Regions from separate parts of the Homo sapiens genome. Here regions 2, 3 and 4 are each linked to region 1. Evidence: fine-mapped expression QTL. A gene starts in region 1. Each other region holds a variant in brackets. All regions are shown on one strand. Distances are from middle to middle. Region 1 holds the start of PEX1 (peroxisomal biogenesis factor 1). Region 2 has its middle 15 kb from the start of GATAD1. Region 3 overlaps FAM133B (family with sequence similarity 133 member B). Region 4 overlaps CDK6 (cyclin dependent kinase 6).

Evidence for each region. PIP is the estimated chance that this variant, and not a neighbour inherited with it, causes the effect.
Region 2: its variant is the best candidate, but not a certain one, in a credible set for the expression of PEX1 in hypothalamus (GTEx, PIP 0.84).
Region 3: its variant is the best candidate, but not a certain one, in a credible set for the expression of PEX1 in whole blood (INTERVAL, PIP 0.69).
Region 4: its variant is the best candidate, but not a certain one, in a credible set for the expression of PEX1 in whole blood (INTERVAL, PIP 0.67).

The regions. Positions count from the first base shown.
Region 1 is chr7:92,525,452-92,530,451 of GRCh38, forward strand. It overlaps PEX1 (peroxisomal biogenesis factor 1), which reads right to left and starts at 3,069. Exons shown (of 24, transcript NM_000466.3): 1 at 2,856-3,069. The coding sequence starts at 2,984. RBM48 (RNA binding motif protein 48) reads left to right here and starts at 3,344. Exons shown (of 5, transcript NM_032120.4): 1 at 3,344-3,473; 2 at 4,025-4,215. The coding sequence starts at 3,363. RefSeq lists enhancers at 2,488-2,667, 3,268-3,647 and a silencer at 2,898-3,127.
Region 2 is chr7:92,429,315-92,435,922 of GRCh38, forward strand. It overlaps the pseudogene TMBIM7P. Among named protein-coding and RNA genes, the nearest start is that of GATAD1, 15 kb to the right of the region's middle. The variant A/G (reference allele first, on the strand shown) is at 2,148.
Region 3 is chr7:92,565,990-92,574,115 of GRCh38, forward strand. FAM133B (family with sequence similarity 133 member B) reads right to left here. Exons shown (of 11, transcript NM_152789.4): 9 at 3,834-3,926; 10 at 25-72. Among named protein-coding and RNA genes, the nearest start is that of FAM133B, 20 kb to the right of the region's middle. The variant T/C (reference allele first, on the strand shown) is at 4,245.
Region 4 is chr7:92,603,330-92,611,455 of GRCh38, forward strand. CDK6 (cyclin dependent kinase 6) reads right to left here. Exons shown (of 8, transcript NM_001145306.2): 8 at 1,592-8,126. Among named protein-coding and RNA genes, the nearest start is that of FAM133B, 17 kb to the left of the region's middle. The variant C/T (reference allele first, on the strand shown) is at 3,692.

The sequences.
Region 1 (5,000 bases):
TCCCCCTGCTGCAATCACATCAAGTTCTGAGTACAGAGAAGATAACTTAGTTGAAGCGGTGGTTCTCAACCAGAGGTGATTTTGTCCTTCAGTAGACATCTGACAATGTCTGAAGACCTTTTTGGTTGTCACAGATAGGGGGAGGCAGTACAGGCGTCTACTGGATAGAGGCCAAGGGTGCTGTTAAACATCTTAAAATGTACAGGAGAGCCCCCAAAACAAAAAATTATCCAGCTCAAAATGTCAACAGTGCCAAGGTTGAGAAATCCTGACTTAAAGCATCTACTGGGTAGTCAGTCCTGAAATAATGACTTGAGTAAACAAGAGAATACAATACTTGAAACACAGTACAGAGTATATCAAATGTGATGTGTCACATAACACAACAGAGAAGTATTGAAAGGGAGACAAATGTGGGCAACAGAGAATTGGAAAGCTATGTGGAGGAGGTAGGATTATTCCTTTTTAAAGACATGGAATTTGTATGGAAGGAAGAAAAATGACTGAGGGAAGAATGGCATGAGTAAGAGAACAGAAGTGGGAAGGAGATTGGTTATAGAAGAAACAGTGAGAACGGTAGGTTGGGTGATGCAGAGTGAGCTATAGACAAGAGGGCAAATTAGCTGCATGGCAATGGTACTGGCCTAGGAATGCCAGTTTCCTTACATGTAAAAGTACAGAAACGACCTAGATGCTTAAGGTCTCTATCGTCATTAAAATTCTATGATTCTAGGACAGTAGGTCTCAACTCTTTTGTGCATCCAAGTAGCCTGAATAAATTTTTTAAAATTAGAGATGCCTAAAGCCTATTCCCTAAGATTTTAGGTCTGATTTAATAGGTCTGAGGGTTGATCAGAACATCTGTATTCTTAAAAGCTTCAAGGTAAGTCTGACATAGGCCAGAAAACCATTGTTCCAACCCTTCTTCCCATTACTGCATGATCTGTATTATGCACTCAATGCTTCACCCCAAATAAAGTAATTCAAGTATTAACTCCCAACTTGTGAATCTTTCTGCTTTCATAATTATCTATGGCCTCTAACCCAAGAATTCTGGGAATCTATCCTAGACAACCAGAAATAAAATGATGTTTTCTAAACAAAGATGTGTTATTTTCAACGTCTGATTAAAATATAGTTTATCACTTCTAATGCCTAAAAATTAAGTACAATCTAAATGGTCAATCATAGTAAACAATTAAATAAATTATGGCAAATTTGTGCTAGAATACTAATTAACAACTTAAAATGATGACCTTTTAACAAAATAAAACACTCATAATAACATTAAATAAAAACACCAGGACACAAAACTGTACGTGTGTATACAGGACCTCATTTATGTTAAAAATAAAGATTAGAAACAAAACTGGAAGATTTGATCCAAACTGTCAACATTAGTCACCTCTAAGTTCTGGGATTATGGGTAACTTATTTTCTTGTTAATAATTTTCCATGCTTTCCAAATTTTCTATAAAACATAAATTCTATAAATTTATATAATTCATCGAGGAATAAATGTATAGATTTATGGAATCTATAAAGTAATAAACTTATTACATTGATAATTAGAAAGTAAAGTTGACCTATTCTGCTAATATGGGCTGAACAGAAACAGCAATTTGTTCCAGGGCTAAAGACATTTACATTTCAAAAAGATATGCATGAATTAATTCTTATAAGTACTTCCCGAAGGCTCAAAATTTAAAACAAAGATCAAGACCACTAAATTCTTAAACAGTGATGAATGTAAGGTAACAACTACATCTTAGGATCAAATTAGAGTTACTGTAAGAAAGCATTCCTACTATTAAGTGCAGATTTGAAAACATGTTGAAAAATCCCATCGAAGCTGACAGAGCACTGAACCAACTTCTACCTGGAACTTGGTGACAGTGACTGATTTGTCTCTAGCCATAAAGCCCATCAAAAACCAAAAGATTGTCTACTTAGTGGTAAAAAATAATAACGACGATGATAGGAGGATTCTGCTGAACTCATGTTTTCAGTGGACCAAAAATATCTTCCCCTAGGTATGGGGAAGTAACTCAAGTGGAAAGAAGGGATGCTTGAAATTATTGCAAACTCTATTCATTGCATAGATTAGCCACTGGTGGGTACCATGCATCCAGGATTTATGAGGATTTCAAATACGCCGTCCTTTTGCCCCCATAAGTACACTCAAACTCGTGAGACCATGTGCCTCTATTTTTAATTATGAAAATATGGACGCTGTATCTCCACCAGTGGTTAGAACTGTGAAACATCCTAACCACAACGTCCAGAAGGGCGACTGATCGCAGAGCTTCAAGTGATCTTAACTACGTTATGTGTTCCTAACACACTACAGCTGTGTTCCGCGTCAGCGACGCAGGGCAGAACCATCATTGTATTAACCTTTCCCGCTCATGGGACGCGGTGCTTAGTCCCCGGGAACCGACAGGGGCTCCGCCAACAACTCTGCGTCCCGCTCTCGCGGCCCGGACGGCAGCAGCGCAGGTTAACTGGAAATGGCTGGCAAGGAAAACACCTTTTAAAATAATAAAAACAAACCACTTCTCAGGAGCTTTTCCAGCCTGGAATAAGGAATATTTATAAAAACAGTGGTAGAATATTAGGACGTTTCTAGGTTCAGTTTCACCAAGTGAAAAGACCTGGGATAAGACGAGCCCAGGGCTGCACTGGACTTGTGGGATCCAGAGACTACCCAGAAGGGCCCTGCCGTCGAGGGACCCTGATCTCTGCGCGCTTCGGCGGCGCCCGGGTGGCAGCCGGTGTCCCGCCGCGTCCCTGAGAGGCTTCGGCCTCGTCCGACCCCAGGCTGAAGATCAGGTGGCTCGGGGCCGGCAGGTTACCTGCAGCAGATGCAGCTGGGCCACGAGACGCCGCGGCAGGTGGAGGAAGCAGTCGCGAGCGTTGGTGAAGGCCACAGTCACTGCCGCCCCGCCTCCCCCAGCACCCGCCAGGCGATCGCTGCCCCACATCGTCCCGGAGCGTCGCTCTGGGTTCGCCCACCCTAGCGCCGCAAAGGACCCGGGACCCGGCAGGCCGAGGACGTCGGAGCCGGAGGAGATCGATCGGCCCCGCCCCCTGCGGCCCCGCCCCCTCTCCCCGCTGCGCATCCTGCCGTAAGCCTGTAGTGGGTGGGACAAGAAAGCTTCTGTCACCCACCGCGCCTCTCCGCCGAGCCGCTCGGGGGCGGCACCTCGTTCATCAAATCTTCGCACGCAGGAAACGATGGCCGACGCTGTCGATTCTCCAGCCAATCCTGGCACTCCTTAACTCATCCCGCTCTCTTATTGGATAAAAGGGAGCTCAGTAGGGCGGATGTTGTCCTCCCTGCGAGGATCAAAGTAGGCAAGATGGCGTCGAGCGGCGGGGAGCTAGGGAGTTTATTTGATCACCACGTCCAGAGGGCGGTATGCGACACACGGGCCAAATATCGAGAGGGACGACGGCCTCGTGCTGTGAAGGTAAAGTGATTTTGGTTTCATTCGCTCTCCTCGGTAGCTTTATGTGAGTGCTAGCGCCATATGACCAGCCTACGGAAATAAAGGCACGACAAGGCTTCCGTCAGATCTGTCTCTCGTTAGAGCTGGCGTGAAGAACCCTCGGTCAGTTACCAAAGATTCTCACGACGCCTTTGGTCAAGTATTAGAACATCAACTCCACGAGAATAGGCCTTGGTTTTAGTCATTGGATCTTCTGTGTTTACAGTACTACTTGGCACAGGTAAGCACTCAGTGAATATTCGTTGAGTGATTGTTCCCAGTGACTTCTACCGACTCAATTTCTGGAAAAAAATGTCGACTGAAGGTAGTCTGTTATATGCCTTAGGTAGCCTCTCACATGGACTGTTATTCTTTATGCAGAAGGAATGGCAGAAATTTCATTTTGTGTTCTTTTGCTGACTGGGTTGAACAGATTATTTCTTGTTTTCAAAGTTCTCTTTAAAAAAAAATAGAGGCAGATTCGTCCTAGGCTTATTTGCGAAATACGTTTAATAACTCTGCATTTCTTTCAGGTATATACAATCAATTTGGAATCTCAGTACTTATTAATACAAGGAGTTCCTGCTGTGGGAGTCATGAAGGAATTAGTTGAGCGATTCGCTTTATATGGTGCAATTGAACAGTACAATGCTCTAGATGAATACCCAGCAGAAGACTTTACTGAAGTTTATCTTATTAAATTTATGAACTTACAAAGTGCAAGGTAATGTGCAAGTTAAGAAATGACTCATTTCCTCATTTCTTCCATTCATATTTCTGTCATTTTGGCCCCAAGTTTCCCTCATTCATAACTGAATTACCCCAAAACGTAATCTAGCATATCTTCCTCCAGCCTTTTTAAAAGTTAACTTTACTGAAACACTGTATCCATCACATCATTCCCATGCTTAACAATTTAATGTCCTGTAGCTTGGTAGAGTAGAAGTTGGGTTTGGCCAGGCACGGTGGCTCACGCCTGCAATCCCAGCACTCTGGGAGACCGAGGTGGGCGGATCACGAGGTCAGGAGTTTGAGACCAGCCTGGCCAACATGGTGAAACCCCCCTCTCTACTAAAAATACAAAATTAGCTGGGTCTAGTGGCGCAGGCCTGTAATCCCAGCTACTCGGGAGGCTGAGGCAGGAGAATCGCTTGAAACCGGGAGGCAGAGGTTGCAGTGAGCCGAGATTGCGCCATTGCACTCCAGACAGGGCAACAAGAGGGAAGCTCTGCCTCAAAAAAAAAAAAAAAAAAAAAATTTGGGTTTGAAGCCTGGGCGTGGTGACTCACGCCTGTAATCCCAGCACTTTGGGAGACCGAGGCAGGCAGATCACTTGAGGTCAGGGGTTCAAGACAAGCCTGGCCAACATGATGGAAACCCCTCCTCTACTAAAAATACAAAAATTAGCCGGGTGTGGTGGTGCGGACCTGTAGTCCCAGCTACTCAGGTGGCTGAGGCATGGGAATTGCTTGAACCTGGGAGGTGGAGATTGCAGTGAGCAGAGATCAT
Region 2 (6,608 bases), 95 kb before region 1:
AAAAATTAATGTGAACAACCTAACACTTAATTCTACATCAGTCATAAAGACTTACCAGAAAATAAACACACTGGTAATTACCACAGTGAGCAACAACTGAACTGACAGGAGGAAGAACACTTTGATAATGAAAGCTGAGGAGACAGAAACACTATTTTTATGACACAATAGTCAAAAGTAACAACATAAATGTAATGACGTATTTTTGATATTTAATGAAAGGAATTTTTTTTTTTTTGCTCTTTTTTCAGGATGGGAAAGGCAGTGCTAGTTTACAGTCAGCAAATAGAATAACAACAAAAATGCAGCTCTATAGAACTTTTAGAGCACACTCAATCCAGATGGTTGGATAGAGGTGTTTTATTGGGGATCTGATGGTTTATTCATGGGAGCTCCAGAATTTTCTCTTTTTTCTTTTTTTTCTTTCTTTCTTTTTTTTTTTTTTTTTTTTGGAACAGAGTCTCACCGTGTTGCCCAGACTGAGTGGAGTGACGACACAATTTCAGCTCACTGCAACCTCTACCTCCTGGGTTCAAGCGATTCTCATGCCTCAGCCTCCTGAATAGCTAAGATTACCACCACTCCTAGCTAATTTTTTTTTTTTTTAAGTAAAGATGGGGTTTCACCATGTTGCCCAGGCTGGTCTCAAACTCCTGATCTCAGGTGATCCACCTGCCTCAGCCTCCCAAAATGCTGGGATTGTAGGCATGAGCCACCATGCCTGGCCAAAGCCCAGAATTTTCAAGACAAACTCAGGAATTTAATTCCTTGTCATGCACATCCCATCCTCCTTAGGATCAAACATGATTTGAAATCCTCACCATGTCACAGGCCCATCATTAGGGATCCAGCGACACTACCTCCCTGCATCGGAGAGCAGCAGCACCTCAGGACTGTGGGAGACGGGGGGGCGTCTCCCTGGAGATGGACTTGGGCTGCAGAGGGTTTGTAGAGCTTTTCTGCCACTTTTCTCTCCAGCCTACCCGCCTGTAGAAACTCTCTTCTCTTCTGCATTCTGATGCAGAAATAGATAACTTGGCGAACTGTACATGAGACCAAAGAGTTCCAAGAGAATGACAGGCCAACATACAAGGCACAGCACGTGGGCACCTCTTTCTGCTTATGTCCTGGGCCCTCTGAATATGGCACTGGCAATGGCAATTTGCCTTTTGTGTGGCTTTATCCCAATTTCAAAGAAAAAAAAGAAGTAATGCTGCTTAAAATTAACTTACAGGATCGTCGACTGTCCTTTTGCTGGGAAGTTTCTATGCATAGGGAAGTATGACTACAAAGCAGTGGGTCTAAACTGTCTTAATAAAAATACCAGAACATATATTACCAAGTGTATGCTGCCTACATTAAAATATTCATTTAGCTCACATTAATTTGGCATCTGCTATGTAGCAGGGACTGTGGGGGAACAAATATTAAATGTGGCCCAGGCTCACAAGAACAGACACAGAGATCAATGGAATCAAAGTGACAGTCCAGAAACAAACCTTTATATTTACGGTCAATTGATTTTTAACAAATGTGCCAGGAAAATTCAATGAAGAAAGAATAATCGTTTTGACAAATGGTGCTGGGAAGACTGGATATACACCTACAAAAGGATGAATTTGGATCCCCAACTAACACCAACTGCAAGCCATAACATGCAGTCATAATGGCCATAGCAGCCTCAGCTACCATCTCATTGTAAGTGAATGAGAGCTCCCAATTCAAGAGCAGCACAAGAGTTGACCAACTGAGTCAACCCACAGAATTATGAGAGATAATAAAATGGTTGCTGCTTTCTTTAAGTGGGCAAAGGATTTGAATAGACATTCCTCCAAAGAAGACATATGAATGACCAATAAGTATAAGAGAAAATTCGCTAATGAAATGCAAGTCAAAAGTACAATGAGATAACACTTCACGAACACTAGAATGGCTATAACCAAAAAGACAGACAATAACAAGTGTTGACAAGGATGCAGAGAAACAGGAGCCCTCATACATTGCTGCTTGGAATGTAAAATGGTGCAGCCACTTTGGAAAAGTTTGGCAGTTCATCAAAATGTGAAACACAGAGTTACCCTATGGTTCAGCAATTCCTGGGTATCTACCCAAGAGAAATGAAAACATATGTCTACACAAAAACTTCA[A/G]TATGAATGTTGATTGCAGCATTATTCAAAATAACCTAAAGGTAGAAACAATCTAATTGTCTGTCAACTGATAAATGTATAAACAAATGTTTTCTATTCAGGCAATGGAATTGTATACGGCTCATTCATAAAAGGAATGAAATACTGACACGTGCTACAACATGGGAGAACCTCAAAAACATTAAGTGAAAGAAGGAAATCACAAAAGACCACATGTTGTATGATTCCATTTACATGAAATGTTCAAAATAGATTCATAGAGAGGTCTGAAAGTAGATTAGTAGTTGGCAGGGGTTTGGGGGAGGGATGATGGGAGTAACTGCCAATGGGTATGGGTTTCTTTTCTTTTTTTTTTTTTCCTTTAGTAAAGATGGTGTTTCACCATGCTGCCCAGGTTGGTTTTGAACTCCTGACCTCAAGTGATCTGCCTGCCTCGAACTCCCAAAGTTCTGGGATTACAGGCATGAGCCACTGCGCCTAGTCTGGGTATGGGTTTCTGTTTGAGGTGACGAAAATGTTCGAAAATTGATCATGTTGATGGTTATCAACTCTAAATACACAAAATACCAGTGAATTGTACACTGAAAAGGGATTTTTATGATTTGCAAATTATATCTCCATAATACTGCTTTAAAAAATTACAGCCCCCATAACTCAATCCATTACCCTGCTATACTTTTCCTTTTCTCCACAACACTTTCATATTTTCATATACTATATTTTTTTTAATTGGACAAAGGCCAGCCTCTGCCCTCCAGGAGAGGCAGATATAAACAACTGACTCTTACACTGGCAAGGAGGCTCTACATATTTTTCAATTAGACCTGAAAGACTAATTCGATTAGACTCCTTAAGCCTCATTTTCTCACCTGTAAAATGGCAATACAACTTCTGTATTTGTAGGGTTGTTGTAAGGACGAAACGCAATAGCATTGCCCTTGCACAACACCCTGTGTAGGCCTGATATTGATCTCAGAGACAGCCAGGTGCTTAGTGATATCCAATATCCCTGGCTTCCTCACTATTTGACCCAGATCTTGTTAAGGGTGGCAATGGGCTCAGCTGAACAACTCCAAATAGAGGTGGCCATGTGATACAGGTGGGTCAATGACATGGCATTCAAAACTCTGGGTGTGGTTTCTAGAAATGCCTCTGAAAAGAAGACTGGTTTGGTCAACTCTCAGGATACCTGCAGCCCTCTCTTGGCTCTACTTTGCCTTTGGCTGTTTGCCTTTTCCTTCTCCTACCTCAAAGGCTAGAGCTTCAAAAGGCAGCTTTCCAGCCACAGGAAAGGAGTGGTGAGGGCCACAGGGAGACCAATAGGATTCAAAGCTCACAGTCCACCTGCAAGTTGTTCAGGCCCTCAGAAGGCCTCAGGGTGGCAGAGTGGACACTTTAAAACTTAAGCCAATATTGTGGTATCACCTTGTATACAAGTAAAAACATTTTATGATCCATGATTAATTCATATTTCCTTAAAAAAAAAAGTTATTCACCATACGTTTCTTATGAGTTTCTGAATGCCCTGGACAACTTGGAAGCAGTCAGTTATAGCAGTCCTACATCATATTTTATGAGAAAGCATGACTCAGAAAAACTAAAAAAAAAATTATATCTGACAATCTTCTCTGTGGAAACATTTTAAGAGAACATATGCTCTTCTCTTCTAAAAAGGTAATTTCTTTATTCTCACCTCTGCGGACAGATGCGTCTGAGAAAGGATTGCCTAAAGTTGCATTGTTATCACCTGGGGTGACGTCATCTGAAATTTCTATCACACAGGTATTCAACTGCTCGGTGTCCTTTGGCCGTGGCTTCTTCCGAGTTTCTTGTGGCCCAGCTGAAGATGAAGGTGTGTAGCGCTCACCAGATTGGGACTGGATGCTTTTATCTGCTGCTTCCTGAATCAGATGTTGATGACCTCCAGAACCAAAGTCTATTGGTTCGCTGACCTCCAAGTCCAATTTCCTAGAGGGGAAGAATTGTTTTTCATGTCCTTATGATTACACCTCTACAACCTTAGCATCCTCAGAATCATCAGGCGATTTCTTCTTAATTGTAACTGGCTTGGCTCAGTACTTACCAAGTTGGTGCTTAGTAAATATTTGTTAAATGAATGATAACATTTAAGATGAAACCCATAGAGTAAAATAATTTGATTGTATTATGAAATTAATTTTTTAATAGAATTTATTCAGCAAAAACTTAATGAGTGCCAAGCATGAAGCTGCCCTTGCTGTCTCTGCCCTCAAAGAGCTTATATTTTGGAAGAGAGTATAATCAAGCAATCATATAAAAGGCAACATAGGTCGGGTGCGGTGGCTCTTGCCTGTAATCCCAACACTTTGGGAGGCCGAGGCGGGCGGATCGCCTGAGGTTGGGAATTCAAGACCAGCCGGGCCAACATGGTGAAACTCCGTCTCTACTAAAAATACAAAAATCAGCCAGGCATGGTGGCAGGCTCCTGTAATCCCAGCTACTAGGGAAGCTGAGGCAGGAGAATCACTTGAACCTTGGAGGCAGAGCTTGCAGTGAGCCAAGATCGTGCCACTGCACTCCAGCCTGGGAAACAGAGCGAGACTCCATCTCAAAAAAAAAAAAAAAAAAAAAAGGCAATATAAGCAGACCAGGAACATTGGAGGAAGTCCTGAGACCCCTGAAGGAAATCTGGAGGAACTTGCAGGGAGTAGAAGAGGTTGTCAAAAGCTTCCAGAGAAACTGAAAGTTAGGCCATGGCTGGAAGCGAGTAGGGATTAGTCAAGTGAAGAGGTGGGGAGAGGTTTTCCAGACAAGGAACCAGCCTGGACCAGGACTGGAGAAGGCAGGGAGGGCAAGTTCCAGAAACGTACCTGGAGCAGGGAGTTTGAAGGGGAGAGTGGAATGAGGTTACACAGAGAAGTAGTGGGCATGCCTCTGAGAGGCTGGCAAGCCAAGTTAAGGACTCTGGACTTCATCCTGAAGGCCATGGGTGTGATTGGCAGAATGGCAGTTCCCCAGTGATGTCCACGTCCTAGTTTTTGGAACCTGTGTCTATGTTATCTTGCATGTCAAAAGGAACATTGCAGGTGTAATTAAGTTAAGGACTTTGGGATGGGGAGATTATCCTAGATTATCTGGGTTGGCCCAATCAAATCACAAAGATTATTATGATTATAGGTATAACAAGGTGGCAGGAGGAACAGAGTCAGAGAAGGAGATGTGACAACAGAAGTAGAGGTCAGAGTGATACAATTGTTGTCTTTGAAGATGGAAGAAGGGGGCCATGAGCCAAGGAACGCAGGTGGCCTCTAGAAGTTGGAAAAGGCAAAGAAATGGCTTTTCCTCTACAGCCTCCAGGAAGGAACCAGCCCTGCCAGAACCTGGATTTTAGCCTAGTGAGATTGGTTTTAGGCTTATGACCTCCAGAACTGTAAGATAATAAATGTGTGTTGTTTTAAGTCATTCAGTTTGTGGCAATTTGCAACAGCAGCAACAGGAAACTAATACAATGGGGAATCAAGGAAGGTTTCCCAGCAGGGACCCATGGAGATCTCCTAGAAAGAAAGGTTACTCTAGGTAGTGTGGAGAATGGGCCAGACTAAGCCAAACTGAGGCAGAGACCAGAAATCCAGATATGAGATGGCAGTGGCTTTGCCACAGTGCCTTCCAGTCTGAACACAGTTCTTAAGAAACTACTACTAGGCCGGGCACGGTAGCTTATGCCTGTAATCCCCGCATGGGCAACAAGAGCAAAACTCTGTCTCAAAAAAACACAACTGCTTGGCAGATTTGGGGTACAGGAGCACTTTAGATACCATTACAAATATTAAATGCAAAAAAGATTTTTTTTTTGAGACAGTCTCCCTCTGTCGCCCAGGCTGGAGTGCAGTGGTGCAATCTCGGTTCACTGCAAGCTCCACCTCCCGGGTTCATGCCATTCTCCTGCCTCAGCCTTCCGAGTAGCTGGGACTACAGGCGCCCACCACCACGCCCAGCTAACTTTTTCTTTTGGTATTTTTAGTAGAGACAGGGTTTCACCGTGTTAGCCAAGATAGTCTCGATCTCCTGATCTCGTGATCCTCCCTCCTTGGCCTCCCAAAGTGCAGGGATTACAGATGTGAGCCACCGCACCCGGCCAAAATGCTAAATTTTAAGTGTAATATTTGTGATATTTACTATACTGTAAGAAGAACTTTAACAAAGAAAAGATGGGCAACCCAGTAAGAAGATGAGAAAAGGCAGGCACAATGACTTACAACTGTAATTTCAATGTTTTTGGAGGCCAAGGTGGGAGGATTGATTGCTTGAGTCCAGGAGTTTGAGACCAGCCTGGGCAACATAGTGAGATCCCATTTCTAAAAAAAAAAAAATTAGCCAGGCATGGTGACATGTGCCTGTAGTTCCAGCTACTCAGCTGGCTGAAATGGGAGGATTTCTTTAGCCCAAAAGTTCAAGGCTGCAGTGAGCTATGATTGTGCCACT
Region 3 (8,126 bases), 42 kb after region 1:
GTAAAAACGTTAAGAGATACTTGCTGTTGCTTTTTCTCGTTCTTCACTGCTTTTCTTCTTTTTTGCTCGCACCTAGAAAGTTTAAATTTTTGTGGAGAACAGAAGACAAACATGTAATTTGTACTCAAGGCATTTTTCTTTCATTCTCTATCTTGCATCTTCAAAATTTAAATGTAAAAAACATTTTGACAATCACAGGACATTTAAAATAACTCCTGTTATATCTCAATGAGGTTTCAATAAAAAACATAAAGGAAGGACAATTAAGACGTAAAATCTCTAGACAGCTTCTCTTATATTCCCTTTCAGCACCTAAAAAAATGTGGTACAGTGGAAAAAAACATCAGCTTTAGGCCGAGTGTGGTTGCTCTTGCCTGTAATCTCAGCATTTTGGGAGGCCAAGGCAGGAGGCTTGCTTGAGCCCAGGAGTTCAAGGCCAGCCTGAGCAACATAGTGAGAGCTCCCCCATCTCTACCAAGAAAAAAAAAAAAGAAAAAGAAAAAATAGCTGGGCACAGTGGCATGTGCCTGTAGTCCCAGCTAACTGGAAGGTTGAGATGGGAGGATCACTTGAGCCCAGGAGGTTGAGGCTGCAGTGAGCCCTGTTTGCACCACTGCACTCCAGCCTGGGCGACAGACTGACACCTTGTCTCAAAACAGGCAAACAAAACATCAGCTCTGAAATGAGATAGATTCCAAGGTCTGAATCCTATCTTACTCTCAACATCTGTAAAATGTAGATAATATCCACCCTCAAGGGGAAGTGCCTAAAATACAGCAGGTATTTCTCTCACTCTATGGTGCTCAACAAATGGTAGCTCTATATTCAGTGTAGTTAGTATAAAGCCAATAGGTTAAAATTCTAAGTAAGAATTATCATCCCATTTATATTTTATTTCAATCTTTTTGAGTGTGGTACACTGGATTTAAATTAAACTGAGGCCGGGGGCAGCGGCTGGTGCCTGTGATCCCAGCGCTTTGATAGGCCAAGGTGGGAGAATTGCTTGAGGCCAGGAGTTCAAGACCAGCCTGGGTAACCTAGTTAAGACTTCACCTCTACAAAAAAATTTTTGTTAAAAATTAGTGGGGTGTGGTGGCATGTGACTGTAGTCCTAGCTACTTGGAAGGGTGAAGTGGAAAATCACTTGAGCCCAGGAGTTCCAGGCTGCAGTGATCTATGACTGCACCATTGCCCTCCAGCCTGGGCGATAGAGCAAGAACCTGCCTCTAAAAAAATAAGAATAAATAAGCTGAAAGTTGTCAAAGCTTTCATAAACTTTCGTATTACATGTTAAGTCCAAATGTGAGATATTTCATATTAAACTTGCTACCATGTAGCAGACAAACATAATACAACACTAATACATTACATACAAAACAATATTTATAAATTTGCCTAATGTTGAATTGCGTGGTTTTGCTGCTAAGTGACTACGACATTAAATACATGACAAATACATAAAAATGCAATTAACAATAAAAGGAAGCATGAGGACTAAAAAAAATATAACACATTAAGCACTAGAGATCACAAGCTCACAACAGAGATCACTAACTCACTAGCTCTCTTTACCGAGCACCTAGGAAACAATATTTTTATTGTTATTCTTGTTATTACAATGACTAAGGGTGACAGCAGATGTACTACATCTATATTTAGCCAGGCAGAGATGAGGGATGCTGTCACGCCATGTCCTGAACAGCCCTGTACATCCTCCACGACTTTTGAATAGCCTGCTAAACATTCATGTGATGAATCTGTTTACAATACAGAAACTAAAATTTTTTTTTTTTTGACAAAGTCTCGCTCTGTTGCCCAGGATGGAGTGCAGTGGTGTGATCTCGGCTCACTGCAGCCTCTGCCTTTCCGGTTCAAGCGATTCTCCTGCCTCAGCCTCCTGAGTAGCTGGGATTGCGGGTCTGTGCCACCATGTCTGGCTAATTTTTGTATTTTTAGTAGAGACAGGGTTTTGCCATGCTGGCCAGGCTGGTCTTTAACTCCCGACCTCAGGTGATCCATCTGCCTTGGCCTCCCAAAGTGCTGGGATACAGGCGTGAACCACCACACCTGGCCCAGAAACTAAATTTTAAAAAATAAAATTTTTTTATTTTTTTAAAGAGATAGGGTTTCGCTATGTTGCCCAAGCTGGTCGTAACTCCTGGTCTGAACTGATTCTCCTGCCATAGCCTCCCAAATTGCTGAGATTACAGGTGCCACAAGAGGCTGAGCCACTGCACCAAGCCTCTTGTGCAGGATTTTAAGATATACTGTAATGCCACTGTATGGTTTTTGAAGGGCGTATGTAATATACACCTGCTACAGCCTGCATTTTGTTTTTTCTTAAGATTCTATGTCTTCTGGTGTTACAGCATTGACTGATTGATTGAGATGGAGTTTCACTCTTGTTGCCCAGGCTGGAGTGTGATGGCACAATCTTGGCTCACTGCAACCTCCGCCTCCCGGGTTCAAGTGATTCTCCTGCCTCAGCCTCCCGAGTAGCTGGGATTACAGGCACCTGCCACCACGCCTGGCTAATTTTTTTTTTTTTTTTTTTTTTTAGCAGAGATGGAGTTTCACCATGTTGGCCAGGCTGGTCTGGAACTCCTGATCTCAGGTGATCCACCCGCCTCAGCCTCCCAAAGTGCTGGGATTATAAGCACGAGCCACTGCGCCTGGCCTGGTGTTAATCACATTCAGGCATTTACACTGAAATACAATTTCATAAAATTGCACATTATCATTATTATTTTTTTAGAGATGGGGTCTTGCTATGTCACCTGGGCTAGAGTGCAGTGGCTATTCACAGGTGGGATCAGAGTGCACTGCAGCCTCAAACTCCAGGGCTCAAGCAACCTTCTTGCCTCAGCATTAGCTTTCATTTCAGGAGCAATTACAAGACATTGCTATAAAATGGGGGCAATAGGTCTTAAAGGACCAAGTGCCACTGTTGCAGACCAAGAACGATGAAATCAGAAAGGAGAGAGGCACAAACAAACAAAAATGCAAGACTCAGGGAATGGGGAGATGAGGAATATAGTAGACAGAGATAGAGCTGGGCAGGACTGATACAGGAGGAGGCTAATACGGAAACGATTAAAGAATCATGAAAACCAGCTCTTGTTGCAATCTGCTACCACCCCTTGTAAGCAAGGGTAAGATCCTCAACTCTTTTAGATTACACTATTGGGGGTTAAGTATGTTGATCGCTAAAGAAAGCTACAGTTTTAAAAATAAATGATTCTAGGGCAAACTTGGCTTAGATTTTACTGTAACACCAAGAATTATGCAAACTTTAGCCACCATTTACTCTGTCTCAGGTATGATGCAATGCCTTTCGTAATTTATCATCTCATTTAGTTCTCACAACGAAGTAATATGATATGTTTCCTGCCAACATTTCTTCTCCACTTCATCACCTTTCTACTCCCCGAAAAGTAGCTCAAAACACAGCTAAATATCAACTAAACTGAGATAGTATATGCAATGTTCTATTTTAACAATGTAAGAGAATGTTTGGTTTCAACATGCTGTATGTTACACAGCTTCTTTCATGTAACAAGAATGGTAGCACAATAAAAAGGAAATATTAGAAGACTAAAAATATCTCAGATTAGAAAGGTATGTGGAAATACAGTTAATTATAAAAAATAATAGATAATTATCTTCTGGAAAAAAGCAAAACTCATTCTGAAATGAAATAACTTTCATTTTGTTTTTTCATACTAGAAAGGTGAATAAATTAAATATGAAGTATTTCTTTTTCTAAGTCATATTTATTAAATCAATAACTAAGCATTTTAAAATAGAGAAAATGGATTTGATCATATACTTACCTCCTCAATATACTCTGATTCTGACAAGGACTCAGATGATAAAGGTTTATCTTCAGAATACATCTTTCTCTTTTTGCTGAGTCCTTTAATATCCTATGAAAAATAAATACATTTATCTTGACTCAGACATACTTTGTCACACACATTTTATGTTTCTAAGTTCTATTTAATTCTTCTAATTATTATAATTACCCATTTTTATTTTAGAATGTCTAAAAAGTGTAACATTTACCAGGATTTAAGTCTTTAATTCCACTAAAGCAATATTAAATATATTGAAAAGAAATAACTACATATCCATTTAGATGTAATATCCATCTTATTTTCTTAAATTATACAGAATAGACTTTATACAGTCATATGAAATATGCAGATAATGTAAGATTTGGTTCCTTTGTATTCTAATTCTTT[T/C]GTTTCTACCCAGGATTGGATTAGACAGGCCTAGTACTGCAGAAAAGAAAATAAATGGGTGATTATTTGCAGTGATCTAAAAGAATCTCTATGTAGTAATTCCTTTAGCGCAAAGTGTTAAATGTAAATATGTGTTTAAAAAAATCTTAACCTCTAAGTATTTTTAATGTTGAAAAAGTGAGTAACTCTGGAGAAGGAGAGGGGACTGAGATTGGGAGTAGTACTTAGGGGCTTAAATATATATTTGAAGAAATAAAAAAAAATTATGACAACACCCAAAGCAAGTGTAACAAAATGTTAAGATTTATTCGAGCTGCATAGTGGATATGCTGGTTATCATTTTATTATTTTTCATGGAACTGTTCTGTATATCTGAAGTAGTTCATAACAAAAACAAAACTACCCAATGGAAAAAATGTTCACCACCTAATCTTACATAAAAAATTCAGAATGTACAACTTTTTATATAGCGTGAGTCTAATTTTGAAGACAAACAAAAATGCAGAAAATAAACTAACAGTGATGATCTCTCTATGGGCTAGATTATAGCAGACTTCCTTTTGTTTCTGCAAACAGCATTGTTATTTTGGCCAAAATGTTAAATGTTAACTGTAAGAAAATGGACTCAAATCCCACTATCAGAAATTAAACACCATTAAGATTTTTGGAAACATCTTTCTAAGTGTATGTTTACAATATTACATAAATACCTGCTGTCTGGAACCTGCTCTTCTCACCCAATAGTATCTTTCCATGCCAACTACATCATTTATGGCTGCATTTAACATTCACTAAAATGCCAGAATTTACTTAACCCATCTCCTTCTGGAGGAAAGAAATATGGGTTCTTTGCTATTAAAAACAAAGTTGAAATAGAATGAAGTGTATGTGAGTGCAAACTCTTTAATAACGATGACTAAATCAAAGACCAACGTAGCCTTCACACAAATGATCATCTTTTTCTCCCACCATGTCCAAAACTGTCTGTCATCCATTTATGAATCACACTTTACCAAGAAGCCTCCCTCTCAGGCTCTTTATCAATCGTATCAGAGAATACAGTTTGTGTTTTCTTTTAGAATTGCCTAAACGTATATTTGCCAATTTGTCTGTGTATGTGTGGTATTCTTTTTTCCTTATTAAAGATCATTAGTTTTTTGTGTTATACATTCTTAGAAGTTTTTCTTAGTCTGTTCATTGTAGTTAAACTTTGTTCACAGTTTAATTTTTGTAATCAGTTTTTGCCATTCAGAATTTGAAATATATGGTCAAAAGTTTGAGTTTTGAGGCATAAGCCTTCCCCACCCCAGTACTGTAATAGTCACCCTTTCTCTAGTTGCATTTTCATACATTGAAATCTCTGAGCTGTCTGGGATGTATTTGGCTTTATGTAGTGGCCAGCTTTATATTTTCCAAATGATTAGTCATTTTGTTCCAAGAAATGCCATCTTTATCATATTATTACATTCCACAGATTCTCGAATTTTCACCTGGACTCTACACTGTTCCATTGTTTTGTCTATTCCTGTACTAGTACTGCACTGTGTTAATTAAAACATTCTTATAATGTTTTAATATCCAGTACGGCAAGTTATACCCAGGAACACGTTATGACTCTCCATTTATTCAATCTTCATATATGTCTCTGAATAGACTTGTATAGTTTTCTTCAAATAAGTACTGTTTACTTCTTTAAAATTTTCTTGCAGATTTTTTGGTTACTACTATAAAGAGGATATTTTCTACCACTGTATTTTCTAATTGAGTATTTTATTATCAGCACTTTCAGAATAATTTTAAATAATAAAGGGGCTAAAAACAATGATTATGTGACTTAAAATTAAAGCCTTTATATAATTATAATAGACACAAAAACAAAGTAAAGAGACGCCATGGACCAGAAAATGTTGTTTCTTTCCAACAGAAAAATGGGCAAAGACTATGAAAAGCAATGCAAAGAAAATGAAATATGAATGGCTAATAAGCAGGTTAAGAAGCTCAACCATTTGTATACATTAAATTTGCAATAATGACATCTCCCTGGGTTGACAAGTATGTGAAACAAGGGTATTTTTATACACTAGCAAGAATGCAAAATAACAAGCACTTGGGCAAGCAAAATGTTCGTAAGTTGAATGTGTATGCACATCCTAGAACTTAGAAATTACAGTCCAAAGTATCCTTTAGAAAATTAACAGTAAACTGGCTGGGCGCGGTGGCTCACACCTGTAATCCCAGCACTTTGGGAGGCTGAGGTGGGCGGATCACGTGGTCAAGAGTTCCAGAACAGCCTGACCAACATGGTGAAACCCTGTCTCTACTGAAAATACAAAAAAGTAGCTGGGCGTGGTGGCGCATGCCTGTAATCCCAGCTATTCAGGAGGCTGAGGCAGGAGAATTGCTTGAACCCGGGAAGTGGAGGTTGCAGTGAGCCAAGATTGCACCACTGCACTCCAGCCTGGGCAACAGAGCGAAACTCCATCTCGGAAAACAAAAAAACAAAAAACAGTAACTGTGGAAAAGAAGAAATGGGTAAGAAATATCCACAGCAGCACTATTTGTATTACTGAAAAATTAAAACAATCTAGATGTTCATAAAAAGGAGAACGGAGAAATAATTGTGGTGGATTAATTAGTAGAATACCATAAGCAAAAGAAACAAACTTGAAAGTATCAGTAAGGATAGATGTCAACAGTAATGCTGAATGAAAAGAAACAAGTTTCAGAAGGAAACACAATGTTACCATTTTGATAATACACAGTATTCTTCCCATTCCAGTAGGTATAACTAATTAAAAAAAAAAGAAACTCAATATTCTGTTATTTATGAACACATACTAATATAATAAAAGTATATAAATGTGGATAGGAAAGACATACACTAGTTTCAGGATCAGCTATATCAAAGGAAAAAATGATAGTTTGGGGACTTTTTTTTTTTTTTTTTTTTAGAGATGGGGGTCTTACTCTGTCATCCAAGCTGGAGTGCACTGGCATGATCATAACTCACTGTAACCTCCAATTTCTGGGCTTAAGTGATCCTCCCACTTCAGTCTCGGGAGAAACTAGGACTACCACACCTGGCTAATTTGTTTTCTTTGTGTAGAGATGGCCTCTCACTATGTTGCCCAGGCTGGTCTCGAACTCCTGGCCTTAAGTGATCCTCCTGCCTCAGCCTCCCAAAGTGTTCGGATTATAAGCATAAGCCATTGTGCCCAGTCTTTTTTCTTCTTTTTTTTTTTTAATACATAAAACAAGACTTGAAGCCAATGTAAATCATTTATTAATTCTAACTGGTAAATATATTAATATTTGTTGATTACATGTGTGTATATTACTCTGTATCTAATATTTTAAGTACTTAAAAATTGCAGTTCAGTTTTAATATTTCATGTTTCTATGTTACCAGATTTAATTTCACACATACTTTTTTTTTTTAAATATGAGGGTAACCACTTATTTTATAATCGTTCTGAAAATCAGGAATTAATGCTGAATTATATCACATCCTTCTGACAACTACTGAAATAATCATATGGTTTCTTTCCTTGATCAGTTAATATGGCAAATTATATTAAATTATCCTTGAATTCTTGGAATTGGTCATTACAGTTTCTTTTTTAAGTGTCTTTTTAAATTAAATTTTATTTTTTTTTAAATTTAGATGCAGGGTCTCACTCTCTCTCCCAGGATAAAGTGTAGTGGCATGACCTTGTGGGCTCAGTCTCCCAAGTAGCTAGGACTACAGGCATATGCCATCACGCCTGGTTAGTTTTTAAAATTAATTAAAAAAAATTTAAAATTAATTTTTATTTGCAAATTGTTATGTAAACCACTCCTAGGCATATACCCAAGAGAAATGAAAACATGCATCCATACAAA
Region 4 (8,126 bases), 79 kb after region 1:
TATTGCCTAGTGATGTCACAGTGTAACACATGACTCACATTTGTGATAATGATAAATGGCTGTTACTGATTTATGTATTTACTATACTATACTTTTAATCATTGCTACAGAGTGTACGCCTACTTATAAAAAAAGTTAACTGTAAAACAGCCGGAGGCATGTCCTTCAGGAAGTATTTCAGAAGGCACTATCACAGGAGATGACAGCTCCATGTGTGTTATTGCCCCCTGAAGTCCTTCCCGTGGGACAAGATATGGAGGTAGAAGACAATGATATTGATAACCCTGACCCTGTGTAGGCCTAGGCTAATGTGTGTGTTTGCATGTTAGTTTTTAATGAAACAGTTTAAAAATTAAAAAAAAAACTAAAAATAGAAAAAATCTTATAGAATAAAGAAAATATTTTTGTATAGCTGTGCAATGTGTTTGTGTTTAAAAATAAAGTGTTATTATAAAAGAGTCAATCATGCCCCTGAAATCCCAGCTACTTGGGGGTAGGGGACTGAAGTGGGAGGATAGGTTGAGCCTGGGAGGTGGAGGCTGCAGTGAGCCATGATTGTGCCACTGTACTCCAGCGTAGGTGACAGAGTGAGACCCTGTCTCAAAAAAAAAAAAAAAAAGTCAAAAAGTTAAAAAAATTAAAGTTTATAAACTAAAAAATTTACAGTAAGCCAAGGTTAATTTATTATTAAAGAAAAAATTTAAAATAAATTTAGTGTGACCTAAGTGTACAGTAAAGTCTACAGTAGTGTAATGTCCTAGGCCTTCACATTCACTCACCACTCACTGACTTATCCTGAGAAACTTCCAGTCCTGAAAGCTCCATTCAGTGTAAGTGCCCTTTGCAGGTGTACCATTTTTTATCTTTTATACCATATTTTGACTGTACCTTTTCTATGTTTAGATACACAAATACTTAACAATGTGTTACAATTGCCTACGGTATTCAATACTATACAGGTTTGTAGCCTAGGAGGCTTAGGCTACACCATCTAGTCTAGGTGTGTATTTGTGTAAGTACACTCTATGATGTTCTCACAACGATGAAATCCCCTAACAATGCATCTCTCAGACTGTATCTCAGTCATTAAGCAACGCATGATTGTTGAATGAGTTCTTTTTTTTTTTTGAGATGGAGTCTTGCTCTGTTGCTTAGGCAGGAGTGCAGTGGCGCCATCTTAGGTCACTGCAACCTCCACTTCCCAGGTTCAAGTGATTCTCCTGCCTCAGTCTCCTGAGTAGCTGGGATTACAGGCGCGTGCCACCATGCCCGGCTAGTTTTCATGTATTTTTAGTAGACACAGGGTTTCACCACGTTGGCCAGCCTGGTCTTGAACTCCTGACCTCTGGTGATCTGCCTGCCTCGGCCTCCCAAAGTACTGGGATTAAAGGCATGAGCCACCGTGCCCGGCCAATTGTTGAATGAGTTCTAAGCTCACTTAGCTGTTATTTACTTTTTAAACACTAGAAGCCTGAAAAGGAATCTCTTAAAGTAAAACTTTAAAACACATTCTTTCTACCACATGGCCAGGTTGCAAATAAGAAGCACCAAAAAAAAAAAAAAAAAAAAAAAAAGAAAGAAAAAAAACACATTCTGCTAAAACTTGGAATTTAATGAATTTTACTCACTACAGTTATACTCATTTTACATTAAAGTAAAAAAGAAAATAGCCAGGAGAGTAATTCATCTCCAGAAAGCAGTTTAAAGTTATTGTTTTTATTATTTTTATTTGCTACCAATATTTTTATTGTAAGAAATACAAAAGGTATTACAAATATACAAACTATTTGCTCTTTTTGCCTCATTCAATTTAGCTTTCACATAAGTGAACACATTGGACAGTGATATTTCAACACCAATTTTGAAAAAAACAATGAACTTCATCATCTGACAATAAATACCTACATTTTCATTCTAGCACCCAGTAAGACATCCAGTTTCCAAAGGATTATTGGTATGCAACCCTCTGAATTTTCTGACATGTTACCTTTGCCACTGCAACAGAAACACCACTGCAGTTCTCCCTTTCCCAATAAGTCAGAGTAAGGGGCAGGTAAGAATGGCTATCTGACTTCAGAAACCCTGGGTCACAAAGCATCCCTTACTTGAGCTACTTTTAAAACCAGATTTTTAATGATAGGGTACTTAAAGTTTTGGTGGTCCTTGAATGACATATTTTACGTTACATATTTACCCTACTTTTCTATTCTCCTCCTCAGATAGGAAGGGTATAGATAAACTGGCTATATTTTCATCTGCCTCTTGGGAAAGGAGCAAGAGCATTCAGCTCAGAGCATTCTGAAGACAGTAGCCTTAGAGATAAGCTTTCTTTCTTTCTTCTTCTTTTGCTTCAAGAGGGCTTTCTGTGTGTAATGGAGGGATGGTTGCTAGAGTGAGACAGCCCTTCCCCTCTTGCTATGTCTATACCATACCTGAGGCCATTTTTCTTAGAGGGCAAAAACGTTAGAATAGGTAGGAAGGTTCTTGCTTTCAGAGAGCTGTGCTGCACCCACAGGGTGGACCCGACAGGCCACTGTGGTAACTCTCAATCTGTGTACAGAGAAAAGAGAAGCAACATCTGATACAAAGTCACCTGCCAACATTCTTATAAGACTGTGTCCCAGGCAGTGAATTTCCACACTGCTTCTTGGGTCTGCAGAACTCAAAGCACCAAAACAGAGCATTCTGTAGCAATATAAGCAAACGGAATAAGAATAATTATGCACCTTTAAGGAACATGCACCCTTATAAGTCTGTACCCTGATATGAAAATAGCAGAATGAATTTCAAGTATGAAGAAATACAGTAAAAGTGTGGCCTGTAGATGGAGAGAAAACAGCAGCCTGGAATGTGGTTTATATTCTTGATTAGTTTTTCTCTTGGTACCACAGCCAAAACTGAATGCTCTGTACAATGACTTGGTTTAAAAATCAAGATGCATACAAAGATGCTAGAGGCATTTCTAATGGGTGCCATGAGCACAGTCTGTGCCCAGCATCAGGAACCATCTCTAGATGAATGTGGCTAGGTCAAGTTGGGAGTGGTGGCCAGGCCTAGACAGGCACACCTGTGGTCCATGATGTGGAGGAAGATGGAGAGCACCATGTGGACAAGCCAGGATGGTAGCAGGGAACACTTTAGTGGTAGAAAGGAAGAGATACAGGGGACAGAGATGTAGAGGTGTGGGGATGTTGGTCATCTTGGGCTGGTTCACACAGCCTAGATGAGTATCTGATATACACAATTTCTACATTTCTAGAACCATGATTTCAAACACAGAAACTAACAAGTCAAATTTCCAAATTAGATTTTTTTTTTTTACTTTCAAAACATTTTCTATTATAAGTCAGAAGGAAAAAAGCTTACTGTATGTGACAGTCTTCCTGAAACCTAAGAGAAAGTTTTAACCAGGCCCTATGGCAATGCAGAAACACTAATACATTTTACAGTGAAAACCTACTTTAACACATCTCAAAATGATAATCGTATAAAACTTTCTAGTTCTAATTTGCACTCTACGTGAACCAATATTTTTCTTTTCTTAACACATACTGCTCTTCTATACCAAACACTTGCCCTTTAACCTTCAGATAAAAACCTCAAATACCAAAAAATGCAACAAGCTTTTGAGGTGTTGGGAATTGTTGGTTGTTAAAATCCCTTTTATTTTATAATAAATTATACAGGCAAT[C/T]CTTGCTTTTTATTACCACACTGGATTGCTTCTGTACACAGCTAAGTTGCCTGAAGCATGGAAACTTGGACTTCTCCATCTGACACGTTCTGGAAGCCTCAAGGCACAAGCTGACAGTTCTGCTTCTACAGAAAAACTCTCACACTGCTCTCCTCTCAACAGTACTGCCTGTTCCCACTACTCCACATGACACCTACGAGGGCACTACATCACGTGAGGGAAGCTTCTTCATGAGGGCAGACAAGAGGAGGCACCACCCAGGCACTGGTCTCTGCCTGGCATCTATTCCGAGGGCCACCTGGCACAGTTTCTAAATTAAGGCATATCTAAAATGCTTTTCTACCTTTAGTTTTTATTTTTGCTATATTTTTGCACTCTACTATATGCATATTTAATAAAAACAACTACAAAGTCCTTTACTTTAATTCCTTTACATAATGATAAAACACCTAGATACCCAAAATACTACATCTATATATTCAAATCTACTAATCATGTTACAAATGCATGCAGCTTATTTGGGGGCTTAGTCTAATTTTTATTTTCTTAGGTCCATCAATACCATGATAATGAACATTAGATGCAAAATCCTAACACTTTCTGCCTTCAGTTGTACTTTCACAGGACTAGTGTGATTCAGAAATAAATAACATACATGAATAATAATAGAAATAATTTATGCAAATGTAGAACAACTTGAAAAAAAATCCCCCGCCTGTCAGGTGCTGTTCCTGGGGGTAGCTGATGCTATAAATTCCATGTACTAACTAATATATTTACTACAGGTAATAGGAAAACAAATGAATAAAAAGTGAGGAACTATGATATACATGTGTATATTTTTGCAAACACAGGATCAGAATGAAAAGATATATCATGCACTGTGAGGTTTAAGAAATGTATTACTGCTGGGATTTGTTTTATTATTCAGACTTTAAGATCAAACTGAGAGTTGTTGGTGATCACAGAAATATTGCTAGCTGATACATATTATTGCATTTCATAAAACTTAAGATTAGAAACTTTCAAGTAAGGGTACAACGGGTATCTTCAGAACTTTAACCTAAGCACATCAACGGAATTTTTCTAGGGACCACAGAGAGTTAGAAATTAAATAATTGTGTGGCTCTATGTGTGCTGATTAGTGCTACAGTCATAGTTCTTGGCAGTCAATATGTAGTTATATGCCCCCTTTGAGAAAAACCTACATTTGACAATCCAAACTCCTAAAATTGAGAAAGGGTTATTTGTGTGACCAAACAACTCACACGGAAGATTCCTCTCAACATGAAAATCCCCTGCTACATGAGATAATTTGTTTACATACCTTTAATTACCTAACAAAGAAAAAGAGAGAAAAGAAACTGGAAGCTAAAGAATTGAGAGCTTTTGCCAACTGAAGACGAAGCAGAAAATAAACTTTTCAAAACAAAACTTTTCCAGGCATATCTTTCACCATCACATATATAGAATGATGGAAAATAAAAAAATAAAAAAAAATTCCTGCAATTATACATCTTTTCTTTAAAAAAACAAAAACAAAAACAAAAACTGAGCTTAGCGCCTGAGAGATGCGGGGTAGACAGCTTCACACAGGGCAGCTGCTACCGCATCTCTTTTTACCCGAACTTTCGGAGAATTGTGTTGTACTTATTTATGCACAGAAGACACCCGTTTGCTACTAGGGACATTTTTCTTCCTAAGATTTGCAGAACAGATGCCTCTGAGACAGCAGCAGGGCACTCTGACCTCGGAAAGCAGCCCGCGGGGCCGCACATAATTTCAGGCACCGGCAGGTGAGTGGGAGGCGGGGCCCCAGCCCGGCCTCGCCCACTGCCTCTCTCCTGCCAAAGGGGCGGGGCAACGAGGCAGCGCGCCCGGAAGGCTTTCAAGTGGGAATCAAGTTTTGAGCACGAGCAAATGGGGTTCAGACTGGCCACTGTTATAACAAACCCTGGGGTGGAATTCGGCCTTTCGCATAGGGGCTTTAACTGGACTCTAGTTCCTGGGAGCAGAGGGGCGAATGAGGCGGGGGATTTCTCAGCCAGTTTCTGACTGCCCCTAGTGTATGTGGCATTTTGGTTCAGTATGAATTACTGAGACTCATCTGCTTGCCACTCAGGAGGAAAGTTGGGCAGGCACCGTCGAGTGTCTGCCACTCAAAAGGAATAAGCTGCTTTCTGTGGTGCTGTGCTAAGGAAACTGAAAAATACTGCAATATCCTTCCCTACTAAATTTCAAGTGACACTGCTGTGAGAAAGGTGACCTCTAAAATTAACTTAATCATTTGGGGTATAAGAAGTCTTTAAGTAGACTTGTAAATTTAAAAAAAGTATATAAAGTTGCCAAAAAACTTCAAAAGTTAAGTATGTAGACACACTCCTAAGTTGTTATGCTCATATACTTCAGACTTTTTTTTTTTAATTAGAGCTTCTTATGAATTTACATTTGTGATTCCACAAATGTTAAAATTACCTGGTCTTTTGGTATTTTAGGGCTCTGTTTCAATACAGCAATTTTTCAGACAAAAGTTTTGTCTACTGAATTACTGATGTGCTACTCATTTTGCTCACCTGATCTTTAAATTAGGATTTTAAAATTTAATCAATGTTGAAAGGCCACCATGCTAGGGAATTTGAAAGCAGCAGAGAGGGTATGTGTGTTTTAACTGGGGCCACTAAAGGAGTTTTATACTTCTAACGAAACTATCCTGTTCACAGATGAGGACTGCCTTTTTAGTAACTAAGCCTGTTTTAATCTAGAAAAGTAAGGTAACTGGGTACTTCAAAAATTTTTTCTTGACTGAATGAATGACTAGGCTTTCTTTACTTAAATGATCAAAATGGGTGTATTATCCATCCTTAAGAACAATTTATTTGCAGACAATTGTTCAGAACCTAGGTAACAAGTAAAATATTGAAGTTACAGAACATTATAGAGACTATTAATCATCCCAAAAAACAAGTGCTAGGAAAGAGTTAAATATGCGCAGAAAAATAAAGTTAGAATGAAATCTCTTTTAGAAGTACCTCTTTAGTCTTCATCAGATTTGTTTTTCTCTAAAAGTGCCACCTTGTGGAATATACCGGAATAAAACAAGAAAGCTCATCTCTTAGGACAGTGTGAATGTTTAGAAAGACTTTTGCAAGAAAAGTCACCTTCCTTTCCTACCACATCAACTTCAAATTGCTGTAACAGTATTTCAGCAGATGCTCGAAAAGAGCCTGTATTTATTTTCAGGTGGCTCTTGTTTTCTTCCTAAGGCTAGACAAGGTAACAATATGTTGAAGGAAGTCCACTTCTACTCATTTAGCTAAACGTTATCACTTCCTGGAAATGCTGAGAAATAGAAAACATTTTGAAAAGCTGATTGGCACTTCATTAAGAAAATAAAAATCCCCAGAAAGGCTACTTGAGAAAAAAACGTGTAAAAATTGGACCCCTTCTGTTTTTACATTTCTGTTGCTTACAAAGGTCAGAAGATAGAGAGACCAAAGGATTATTTTTGGTTTATTTTCTGAAAAAGTACAAGATAGAAATGCTTGAGATATAGGGATGTATTAAAATTGGGTTGTGAATTGCATTGATATAGAAAGGGAGTAAATAAGAAATGAAAATGCTAGTTTCTCATGCTTTTGAGGAAAACAGCATTTCTAATTACTCTAAGGACTTACATTTCTTGGCACACTTTGGTAGCCTCAATAAGTTTTTCCACTGTGGAGATGGAACATGTAAATATCTTCCTAATTATATACCCAAATATACTTAATGGACATGATAAATGGTTTTGGGTAAGGTTCACAATTTTTCAAAAGTATTGGTGGCATAGGAAACACATGCCTTTTAAAAATTTATTTTTTCAATGAACGTTCTTAGGCATGTGTAAGAAGTATTGCTTCATGTGGTTGCCTCTTCCCTTGAAATGGGAAAAAAGTACAGGTAATTTAGTTTGCTTGGGACAGCTTCTCCATAACATTTGTTTTCGACCATATTAATCCCACAGTTACCAGATGACCTTAGTATAAATTTTTACAATATATTTGTTCATAAAGAATATATCCTTCAAAATATATATAGCTTTGAAACTACCCTTTAAATACCTTCATTTTCTCCAGAATTTCCTTTATCTATTGCCCACTGTTTTATGAATAATTTTTAAAGCCTTAGAAATCATACATCTTTATCTGTCACAATGTGAAACATGCATTCTTTTGAATTATATAAATATCTAAGAGTTTATAATAACATTCCAATATTTTCTTTCCAGGGTAAATATTCTGTAGTTTCTATACTAACATAATTAAGTAATTATGGTGGCATATTCACTTTTAACATTATTTTTTCCTAGACTCAACTATGCAATTAAAGCCTGCTTTTGGAAAATGTAAGACACTCTCATGTGCTTATCATAAGAATAGTCAAATTGTCACTTAAA